2 separate regions of the Homo sapiens genome follow, and region 2 is linked to region 1. Evidence: fine-mapped expression QTL. A gene starts in region 1. The other region holds a variant in brackets. All regions are shown on one strand. Distances are from middle to middle.

Region 1 (5,384 bases):
TCACATTCCCACTCAGGACTTTCCGAACTGGAATTAATCTATACCAGCAGTACCCTATAATTCCTTTAGAAAAGCTTTCTATTCTTCCTCTCCAAAGCGGATCCGAGACACAGTGCCCCTACTTAAGCAAGTACCTTAAGCCCTGGAATGGGATAAGCATCACAGAAATGGTGAAATAAAAGCATTTATTTAAACAAGCAGAAGCAGCCAGGAAAATTCTCCATGGAATTGAAGGTGGATAGGGGCTAAAGGAGAGATGTGAAATCCTGGTTTATGGCAAACAGTGCAGAGAAATGCATCTTTTTAATGTTCAAAGTCTGCCTTAGGCTACGCAAATTCTCCAGACCTATCCAATTCCCAAATCAAACGAACAGGGTTTCAATATGAAGGTTCTTATTCTGCAGGAGACGTGGGGAAAGAAAAAAAAAAAAAAAACAGAGATTGCGGGAGGGGGGTGCGGGGGGAAAGAAAGATTAGTAATGTAATGCAAAAGTCATTCTTTGAGGAAAAGGAAAGGATGCGTGTAATACAAGGAGAATTATCCCGGAAGGTGAGAGGTCCAAAAGTAAATAACCAATAGGTTGACCTTACTTTTCAATATTCTCGAACCAGCAGGTTTCTTTAACACTAGAGGGCATGAACGCAAACGAGACAGAGAGAGAGAGACAGGGAGACAGCGAGAGAGAGAGACACAGAAAAAGAGAGAGAGAGAAAGAGAGAGAGACGGACTGAGACTCTGAGGAAAGGCAGCTTTCACATAAAGCTGAAAATATTCAAGGATACCAGAAATTTCAAGGGGGCTTTGGCAGCCAAGTGCCTTTAGCCTTGCGAATAAAACCTCTATGTTGTTATGTTGTTTCAGGGAAGGCTGACCACGATCTCTCCAAGGAAACCGCTTTCCTAAGCAATGAATGCATGGTAGTTTAAGGCAGGCATACCTCAGTCCCCAAAGCTCCTCTCCTCTGCTAGCAACACCTTTGCCTGAAGAAAGCTCCCACCCTTTCGAGGTTAGTTTCCCTGAACCCCAAAGCATCTATGTTTGCCTGCTCACTGTCCGTTCTTCTGCAGCTGGCTATAAAGGTTGGGGAGGCAGACTCTCCTCCTGGAAATTCAACTAACCATAGTCAAAGAATCGGGTATGCGGGAGGGGCTTGCGCAGCTTTCGCTGTCCAGAGTAGCAGCCTCAGTGCGCTCAGGTTCGCAGCAGCGCAGCGCCCTCGGACCCGGCAAGGGGAGCCTGCTGCGGTGCCCTCCACTCTAACCCCTTGCGCCCCTCCTTCAGGTCCACGACAGCCTGGACAAGGGCAGGCTGTCTCCTCCGCGTCCCCACTGACCCCGCAGGAAAATCTCTGCACCTGGAGATACCCATTAGATGCGCCAGGGCTTGCTCCCCTAACCAAGGCGCTTCGGGATCGCGGGGCTGGTGTTCGGGAAGACGGGGCAGAGAGATGACAGAGGGAGACAGAGATAAGCTGCGAGAAGCAGACACAGAAAGAGAACAAATGTTGCAAAACGGAGAGACAAAAGGAAAGACAGATTAACAGGGACACAGATATCCCAAGAAAGAAAGAGGGAAACAGAATAAGAGAAAAAAACAGATACATGGCCGGAGAGTGTGGACTGAGGGGACCAAGGCTCAGAAAGAGAAACAGAGGCAGAGACACACACGGCGAGAATGAGAGGCAAGAGGACTCTGAAAAAGCGAGGCAAAGGGGGCACTATACGAAGGCAACCGTCGAGGAAGACACCCAAGACCCAGGGAGCGCCTGGTGTCGGGTCGAGTAGAAACGCCCGCAACGCAGCCGGGGCTGCCTGCAGCTGGTGCGAGAAAGTTGTCTGGGCTTGGAGGCCGAGCCACCCCCGCGGAGGAACGTCACCAGAACGCAGAGGGGGCCAGAGCCGCTCCCCCCCCCCCCCCCGCCACCAACAACTCACCGGGGTAGCCAGAAAAGCAGAGCAGAAGGTGGGCGGCGGCAGAAAGTTCCGCGCCACGCGGTCCTCCCGCAACACCTGCAGCCCCGCAAGCGAGCGCACTCGGAGCTCCCGGGAGGCCGCGTCGCCAGGTCCGCCCGCGCCCCTGCCTTTGCCCTGGGACCGGCCCGGGGCGCTCGGCTCCGCGCCCCGGCACTCGCCGCGGGACTTTGCGGCACCTAGCCCCGGCACTCTGGCAGCCCAGAGGGAGCTCGTCCCAGACAATCAAGAGGAAAAGAGGGGAAGCGAGAAAGAGACGGAGACCTGCTATCCTGGCCAACGATCCCGCGAAGAGGGAACGGCGGTCCACACACGGGATTCAGCCTCAGATCAAGCCCAGCAGGCGCCGGCCGGCCGCGCCGAGTGCGGGGCTCGCCGAGTCCGCGCTCACCTGGAACCCGCGCCGGCCCGCGAGCGCCGCGCGCAGCCCCGGCTCCCGCCCGCGCCTCTCTCTTCACACTTGCCCGCGAGCAGAGGGAGCCGGCTCCAGCCTCGGCCAGCCCCAGAGAGGGGCCTTCATAGCGCAGCGGCGGGCTGAAGGGCTCCTCGAGCGCGGCCAGAGCGGACGCTGAGGCCGAGGAGGCGCCCAGAGCGAGCGAGGGCTGCTAGCACGTTGTCACCTCAGCAGAGCCGCCGCCGCCTGGTCACTTCTCCCCGGCCCCCGCCCCCCTCCCACCCCAGCCCGCCGCCTCCCGGTCCCTCCTCCTCGCGTGGTCCCTCCTCCTCTCGTAGCCCCAGCCTGGAGGCCTCTCACTGGGCTAGTATCATTTACGTAACCAGCACCCCCAGCCCTCCTCCCTCCCTGCTCCCGCTCCTCCCCGGGCTGGGGCGGTGCGCACCGAGCGCGCTCCAGCTGCTTCTGGAGCTGGCGCTTCTGCGATGTGCGCAAGTCCCGCGATACTTGGCAGGCACGGCCCCCAAGAGCAACCCTGGGGTCAGCTCCTCTCGCCGGAGGGCGCCTCGCGACCCCTGGCCGCTTTGGGGCCCCACAACGCCAAAGCCGGCCTGCGTGCACCGCGTTCGCCCAATGCACCAGGGAGCCTCTTAGAGGGGAGCTGGAGGATCAGAGACTGCCCTCGGGGAAAGCGCCGGCAACCCCACCCTTGCCGTCGGCTCTCCAGCCGAGAGATGCTGCGGGGTACTTGACGCTTCGGCGCCCTCCGCAGAAAGGACGGAGGTTGGCCTCTTGTTGGTTACAGTATCTACACCCTGGCAGGATCCTAGTGTTCTGGTTGGCGGTGACTACTGCCACCGAACGCACTGTAAGAGTACTGGAAACACAGAGCGCTTCCTTGTGGCTCTCAAATTTTTATGAAGAGGTAAAGAAAAAAGTGGGGCTTTGAATTCCTTTCTCAGGCAAGTAGGTATGATATTAAACACACACCCACTCCGAAGTACCTGGACGTATGAATGTCTCAGTTAATGTGTTGTACCAATACCCCCATGGTACTGAGTTTAAATACATGTAAAGATTTTAGAACAGTGCCTGGCACAAGGCAGAAACCTAAGACGCAGACATTATTAGCGTCTCAAAGACTTGGGACCTGTCCCCCACTGCCATGGGAGAGGAACTTTTCTAGGAAATTGGGATTGCCGAGTTCAAGTGCCTGCTTGGCAATTTATTCACTGTGGCTCTTGGCTAGTTTTGGCCCTTCGGGTGTCAGTTGTCTTGTTTGTAATAAGGGCTGACAGGGGTCCTTGCTTCTCACAGTGTCACTTCACACATCTTATAGGATGTTTTTGGCAGAATTGGGGGAGGATATAACGACTACATAAAAATATTAAACAGCCACGTTTGACAAACATATGATACTATTAATCATAATCTAGTATGTCAATGCCATTCTTGATTATACTCATGAAAGGCAATTTCCAGAGATATTATCTTTATATCTTTTCGTGAGTCAAGTATCATTTAAATTTCTATGTTAATAACTGTATTAATGTCTCCTCCTACATTGTCCATCCTGCCCTACCGTCAATTATGGAGCATTTACCAGAGATGCTTCTGTGCATGTGTGAGTACACAGGGTCCCACTCATAACACTCTGGAATGTCTCTCTACTGCTCTCTCTAGTGAATTCCAGTCCTAACATCAGGTCACTCACCTCTACATGGCATACTGAGAAAAACTGTGGACCAGGTAAAAGATTGGGGTTCTGATGCTGATACAGCTACTTACTAGTCCTATGTTTTTCAAAGACAAATAAGCCCCCATTCTTACATGTTTCATCTCTTAAAAAAAGGCGCAATTCCATTTTGCAGTCTTTGTGATAATATTTAACTTAGGCAGAATCATAAACTTGGTAAAATTTATTTGGGTAATTGGATATTTACGTAGTCCCAAAGTATCACCCTAGAAAGTATTGGCTTTTGGTGCATAACACACCATTCCAAAACTTATTAGCCCCAACCAATAAACATCTGTAATTTCTCAAAGCTCTGTGGGTTGTCAGGTTGGTTTCTGCCCTGGCTAGCTCAGTTTGGTTTAGAGATCTAGGATGGCTTCACTCACTTGTCTGGTGTGGCATACTTATTAGTCTTGAGGGTGTGGGACTCAGCTGCAATGTTTTGTCTTTTGTTTAATCTAGCCCATCATCCTTCAATAGGCTAGCAGTAGTCGTAGTTGCAGGGCTCCAAAAAGCAACAAGGGAGTGCAAGCTCCAATGTGAAGTACTCTGAGATTCTGTGGACGTACATTTGCTGGTGTCTCATTAGCCATGGAAGTTACATGGCCCAAACATAGATAATATAGTCCATGTCTTGATGGGAGAAACTATAATGCCATATTTCAAGGAGAATGCATACACAAAAATAACTTGAGGCTGTTTTTATAATATACTATAGATCCTTAATTACAAACGAATAATAAATTACATGTAGTGGATAAATCTGGTAAACATCACCTTAACCAACTGACCAAGGTTAAAGTCACCAATAATGGGACCAAGTGATATCATGAGCCTCATGATATGATGCACTGAGAAGTACATAACATTATTGATTTAGGATTCCAGATTAAAAAATGCATAATTGAATGCAATCACGAGAAAGCAAAGAAAGCCTTAAATTAAGGAAAATTCTACACAATATCTTGCCTATACTTTTCAAAAATGTCACTGTGATGAAAGTCAAAGAAAAGCTGAGGAAATATTCCAGACTAATGGAGATTTAAAAACCATGACTACTAAATGCAATGTGTAATCCAGAATTGGAGAGCAAACTGGGAATAATATCTATTAATATAAAGAGCATTACTGAGACAATCTAATTCAAAATATTAATAAAAACTATAATATCTAAACTGTATGACTTTTATTTATAATCAAATTAGTTTTATATCAATATTAAGTGTCCTAATTTAATTGTATTGTGATCATATATAAGAAAGCCCTGGATCTTTAAAAAATATA
Region 2 (5,384 bases), 440 kb before region 1:
AGCTTTTTATTAGAAGATTCTCGTGCTGAGTCGAAATCCATTTTCTTTCCATTTTAATATAGTCTATTAGAAAAAATATAATGTGATTTTATTCATTGATATATAAGTTTCTATGATGGTAGAATTTTAGAGTTAGAAAGTTTGGATAAGAAATCAAATCCAGCTTCTTATTCAATTCTCACTAGAACATCGCTAAAAGATTAACATCTAGCCTTTGAATATTTCTAGATATTACTCAATTTGTAGCTTACTTCACTAAAAATCAATTCCAAATACAACATTTTCTGGAAAGCTTATTGATCTAGAATTTAAAATTGTATCTATTTTCTTATCTTCTCAATCTGTACAAATGTCTAAGCTCTTCCTCATAAGAGCTCCTTTTAGTAAAAACCCTACACCATTCTTCTTTTTTTTTTTTTTTTGAGATGTCTCGCTTTGTCACTCACGCTGGAGTACAGTGGCACAGTCTCAGCTTACTGCAACCTCTGCCTCCCAGGTTCAAGAGATTCTCCTGCCTCAGCCTCCTGAGTAGCTGGGACTACAGGTGCATACCACCACGCCCAGCTAACTTTTGTATTTTTAGTAGAGTCGGGGTTTCACCATGTTGGCCAGGCTGCTCTTGAATTCCTGACCTCAAGTGATCTGCCTGCCTTGGCCTCCCAAAGTGCTGGGATTACAGGCATCAGCCACCGCACCTGGCCCACCTGTATTTTCAAGTCAAAGCTCCATTCCTTTCACTGTTGTTTATATAACATAGGCAAAGGCTGAATGTGTTAAATGTGTCACCCAAATTTCATGTGTTGGAAAATTAATCCACAAATTTATATGCTGATTGGAGGGGGGCCTTTGGGAGGTAACTATGATTAGATAAAGTCATCAGGGTAAGACCCCCACACTGGGACTTGGGGCAAAAGAAGAAGAAAAGAGACCTGAGCTGACGAGCATTCCCTTGCCCTCTGCCATGCTATGATGCAGCAAGAAGGCCCTCAACAGAGGCCAACACTATGCTTTTGGACTTCCCATAATCTCCATAACCCTGAGCTAAATAAACTTCATTTCTTTATAATTTACCCACTCTCGGGTATTGTGTTACAGCAAAAGAAAATGGACTGAGACAGCTAGTTTTATATTTAGTTATATTTGATTTTGTGTTCACTTTGAAAAATTGAAAACTTAGGAACTTGTAATCTATATTCCTTAATTTTAATAAAAAATTTTTGTTGAAAACATAATTAAATCATGCTAAAATGACAGAATTTTCTAAATTTTTAAGTTGTACAAAATTCCTAGTTGATCACAATTTTCAAATGTATTGCTCTGTTTTTGTTAACGACAGATGTTACACTAAGAATGTGCAAAGTTTATAAAACAAAACAATTAGAAAGTTAAAATGGCATAATACAGCTCACTTACTAATGACAATTCTGACACAACACCTTTCAGTAATAATAATAGTATCATTCTAACTTCATTTATCTTATTTTCAACGATATAAATTATAAACATTTAACTGTTTGATTTTTAAATTTTTTTTTAATTTTTTTGAGACTGAATCTCACTCTGTCACCCAGGCTGGAGTGCAGTGGCGCGATCTCAGCTCACTGCAACTCCTGCCTCCAGGGTTCAAGCGATTCTACTGCCTCAGCCTTCTGAGTAGCTGGGATTACAGGCTTGTGCCACCACGCCCAGCTAATTTTTGTATTTTTAGTGGAGATAGGGTTTGACCATGTTGGTCAGTCTGGTCTGGAACTCCTGACCTTGTGATCCGGTTTGATACATTTTATCAGTGTCCCTGAGTGCTTAGAATATATCTTAATTCAGTGTGCAAATATTATATGTAATTTACAATTCACTTGCTGAACTGAAGTAACCAACAATAAGTCTTTCATTATTTTGAAACTCCAGTTAAATCAATTTGTAAAATATAACAATCATTTAATTTTGGTGAATGTTTCCTGTAATTAAAACATAAACATTTTTAGGCAATTAATATACAATTAGTACCTACCACACTGAGGATGTGTTAACGAATCATGTATACGTGTGTGTATGTGTCTTAAGTAGACCTTTCACACCAGATATTTCATAGCAAGGCAGTTATGCACCAGCCTTTAGGCATCAAGAATTCCACATTAATAGTGCTTCTGATAAAATCAGGCAGAAGGCTTATTTGTTAAATAAACTTCTTATTTCAGAAATTGTTTCCCCTTCTGTTTTTAAAGCCCTAGCCCTGCCTCCCTGATGCAACTTTTCATCCCAGCTTGGATCCATTGTCTAGCATTCTTCCCTATTGAAGATTTACTGCAATGCTCTCAAACTCATAATTCCAGTTGATAAAGATATCTAATAAGTATAGAATTTTTATTTTCTAGATAATTTGTATTAATATCCTGAGGAAGAACGGCTACCAAGGGAATGTAAATTATTAGGGTCCTGAGATAATCTGTCATTGAGAGTTTAATGTCCTGTAAAAAAGTTTGTGGTATGTTTGTTTGTTTGTTTTGTTTTTATAAGTGACTATTTTAAAGGGACAATTTAGCATATCTGAGAAATTTATCCATCTTATATTATTATTTGGTAGAGAAAAGACTGGGTTTCTTAATTCTTTAAGCCATTCTTGCATCACTTTCCTAAGAGTATATGTAGCTGGGTCATTCCAGATGTGAACTCAAATTATATTTAAAATAGCCAAAAAATGAGTATAACATAGGAATTTAGGCAAAGAAGAGTGTGTTTCAACATTGGAATCCAGGCAAAGATGAGTACTATAGTTTGGATATTTGACACTCCAAACCTCATACTGAAATATGATCCCCAATGTTGGAAGTAGGGGCCTAATGGGAAGTGAAGGAAGGTATGTCCCTCATGAATGGCTTGGTGCCATCCTTGCAGTAATGACTGAGTTCTCACTCAATTAGTTTCCCTGAGAGCTAGTTGTTAAAAGGAAACTGGCACTTCCCATCTCCCTCACTCTTGCTTCCTTTCTTTCCCTACAAGATCTCTGAACATGCTGGCTCCCCTTTACCTTCCACCGTGAGTGGAAGCAGCCTGAGCCCCTTATCAGAAGCCAGGCAGATTCTGATGCCATGCTTCTTGTACAGCCTGCAGAGCTGTGAGCCAAATAAACCTTTTTTCTTTTTAAATTACTCATCATCAGGTATTCCTTTATAGCAACACAATCAGACTAAGACAATGAGTATAAATCCAAACAAATGCAATCCACCAGAGTATCTAATTTGGGGGACTTAGCTGAGAGTATGAGAGATAAGAAATCTGCAATGTGTAA[C/A]CACCTACACCAATAACATTATATAAATGACTGCTACTAAGTGTCAGAGTGATCTCTTCAATTTTGTTAAGAAATTAGAATTGAAATTTAGTGTAATTACTCATATAATTTTAAGCTATTCAATTTTAGTTACCTTAGATTTAACTAGTAAAACTGAGGTACTCTGAAGAGTAGGTTGAAAGATGAAAGGAGTTATAATAAAGCCTCCGTATGTACTTGAATAATATTTAATTCAGACGTAGTACTCCTACATCAAACAAAAACTCAGCCAACTACTGACCAAAAATCCATGCATTTTTCATAAGTGTTCTTGATCATTTGTACCAATTTGAAAAATTTTGTAATTTCCTACCTTGACTAATTCAGCAGGTTTAGGGTAATGGAAAGTAATAAGGACCCATCCAATCCAATTGGGGTAGAATTTATTAATATAAAATTTCAGACTATTGTATTGGTTGCATATACAAAAAAAAATGATTAGACTAGAGGTATCCATGTTTTCTTTGAAGGAGAATCAGAAGCAAGATATATAAATGATCATGGTATCTGAACCCTAGAAGGTAGTACTTATTCTGTGAATCAACATATACTAGGTCCAGGCATGATGGCTCACACCTGTAATCCCAGCACTTTGGGAGGCCAAGGTGGGCAGATCACCAGGTCAGGAAATCAACATCATCCTGGCCAACATGGTGAAACTCCATCTCTACTAAAAATACAAAAATTAGCTGGGCATGGTGATGCATGCCTATAGTCCCAGCTACTTGGGAGGCTGAGGCAGGAGAATCGCTTGAACCCGGGAGGTGGAGGTTGTAGTGAGCCGAGATCACACCACTGCTCTCCAGCCTGGCGTCAGAGTGAGACTCCATCTAAATATATGTATTTATATATATATTGTGTGTGTGTGTATATATATATATATATATATCTCTACTGGGTGTATATATACATATATAAATATAGTGTATATAGATATCTAGTGTATATATATGTATAAATATATATATATAGTGTGTATATGTATGAAATCTGGATAGTTTCCAACTATTTCTAAAGTGAATAGAACTTAAGTTCTAGTGTGTGTGTATATATATATATACATATGCATAAATATATATATAGTGTGTGTGTATGTATACACATATGTGTACATATATGCTAGAACTTAAGTTCTATTCACTTTAGAAATAGTTGGAAACTATCCAGATTTCATTATGATAAAATTATTTTGAGAACATAATTATTCAAAATAATTGTTGAAATGCTAATCAAAGTTGATGAGGATGCAATGGTCTACCCATCTTCAATTCAATATTTTTGTAATATTCAACAAATAATATTTATACCGTCTGCTTATTAGTTCTATTTCATGAATACAATTCAAGATACAATTCAAGAATTACTGTAATATAATCACATTAATAGATTTACTTAAAACTTTAATTTTAACTGTCAAGCTAATAATTTTATTTTTGTTCCATGTATACAAACAAAGCCCCTTTTCATAAGGAAAGATATCTGATTCTGGTATTCTGTTCATGGTTATGGCCCGGAGAGACCACTGACTTTACTAAAAATCAAACAAACAAGCAAAACATCAATTTTGTTCAACTCAAGCCTAAATCATTTAACAAATATTTCTGGGGCACATAAAATGTGCTATACTTGGGGGAGATTGTTTTAACAATGTATAAACCAAAAAAGCCATAAAGGCTAAGATAGACTTTACTTCAACAGTTAAATTCTTTTAAAATATCTTTTTGTATATCGATCAAATTACCACACACATGTAATAACCTCAGAGAAAATCCTTGACAATGTATATAACAGACAAATAATTTATCACCAGAATACATGAAGATCTATGAATAGATAAAAGTAAGGCAAAAATATTCAATGGCAAAATGAACAAAGCATACGAATAAAAAGGATGACTAGTTTCTTTACAGAAGAAATCCCAATGTCATTAGAAAATTGCAAAAGATGTTCATTGCTACCAGCAATTGGGGAAAAAAAACAGATTATCTGTGTTGCGGGAAGTCAGGGACCCCAAACGGAGGGACCGGCTGAAGCCATGGCAGAAGAATGTGGATTGCGA

Direction of the effects. Positions count from the first base shown, and alleles are read on the strand shown. Sizes are in standard deviations (SD) of each study's normalised expression.
For the expression in nucleus accumbens of the gene that starts at base 2,617 in region 1, allele A in region 2 goes with a higher level than allele C (small effect, 0.26 SD a copy in GTEx).

Evidence for each region. PIP is the estimated chance that this variant, and not a neighbour inherited with it, causes the effect. A credible set is the group of variants that fine-mapping cannot tell apart.
Region 2: its variant is the best candidate, but not a certain one, in a credible set for the expression of GALNT13 in nucleus accumbens (GTEx, PIP 0.89).

Annotation. Positions count from the first base shown.
Region 1 is chr2:153,869,155-153,874,538 of GRCh38, reverse strand. GALNT13 (polypeptide N-acetylgalactosaminyltransferase 13) reads right to left here and starts at 2,617. Exons shown (of 13, transcript NM_052917.4): 1 at 2,236-2,617.
Region 2 is chr2:154,312,248-154,317,631 of GRCh38, reverse strand. The region is part of intron 9 of GALNT13 (polypeptide N-acetylgalactosaminyltransferase 13); the gene reads right to left. Among named protein-coding and RNA genes, the nearest start is that of GALNT13-AS1, 140 kb to the left of the region's middle. The variant C/A (reference allele first, on the strand shown) is at 3,287.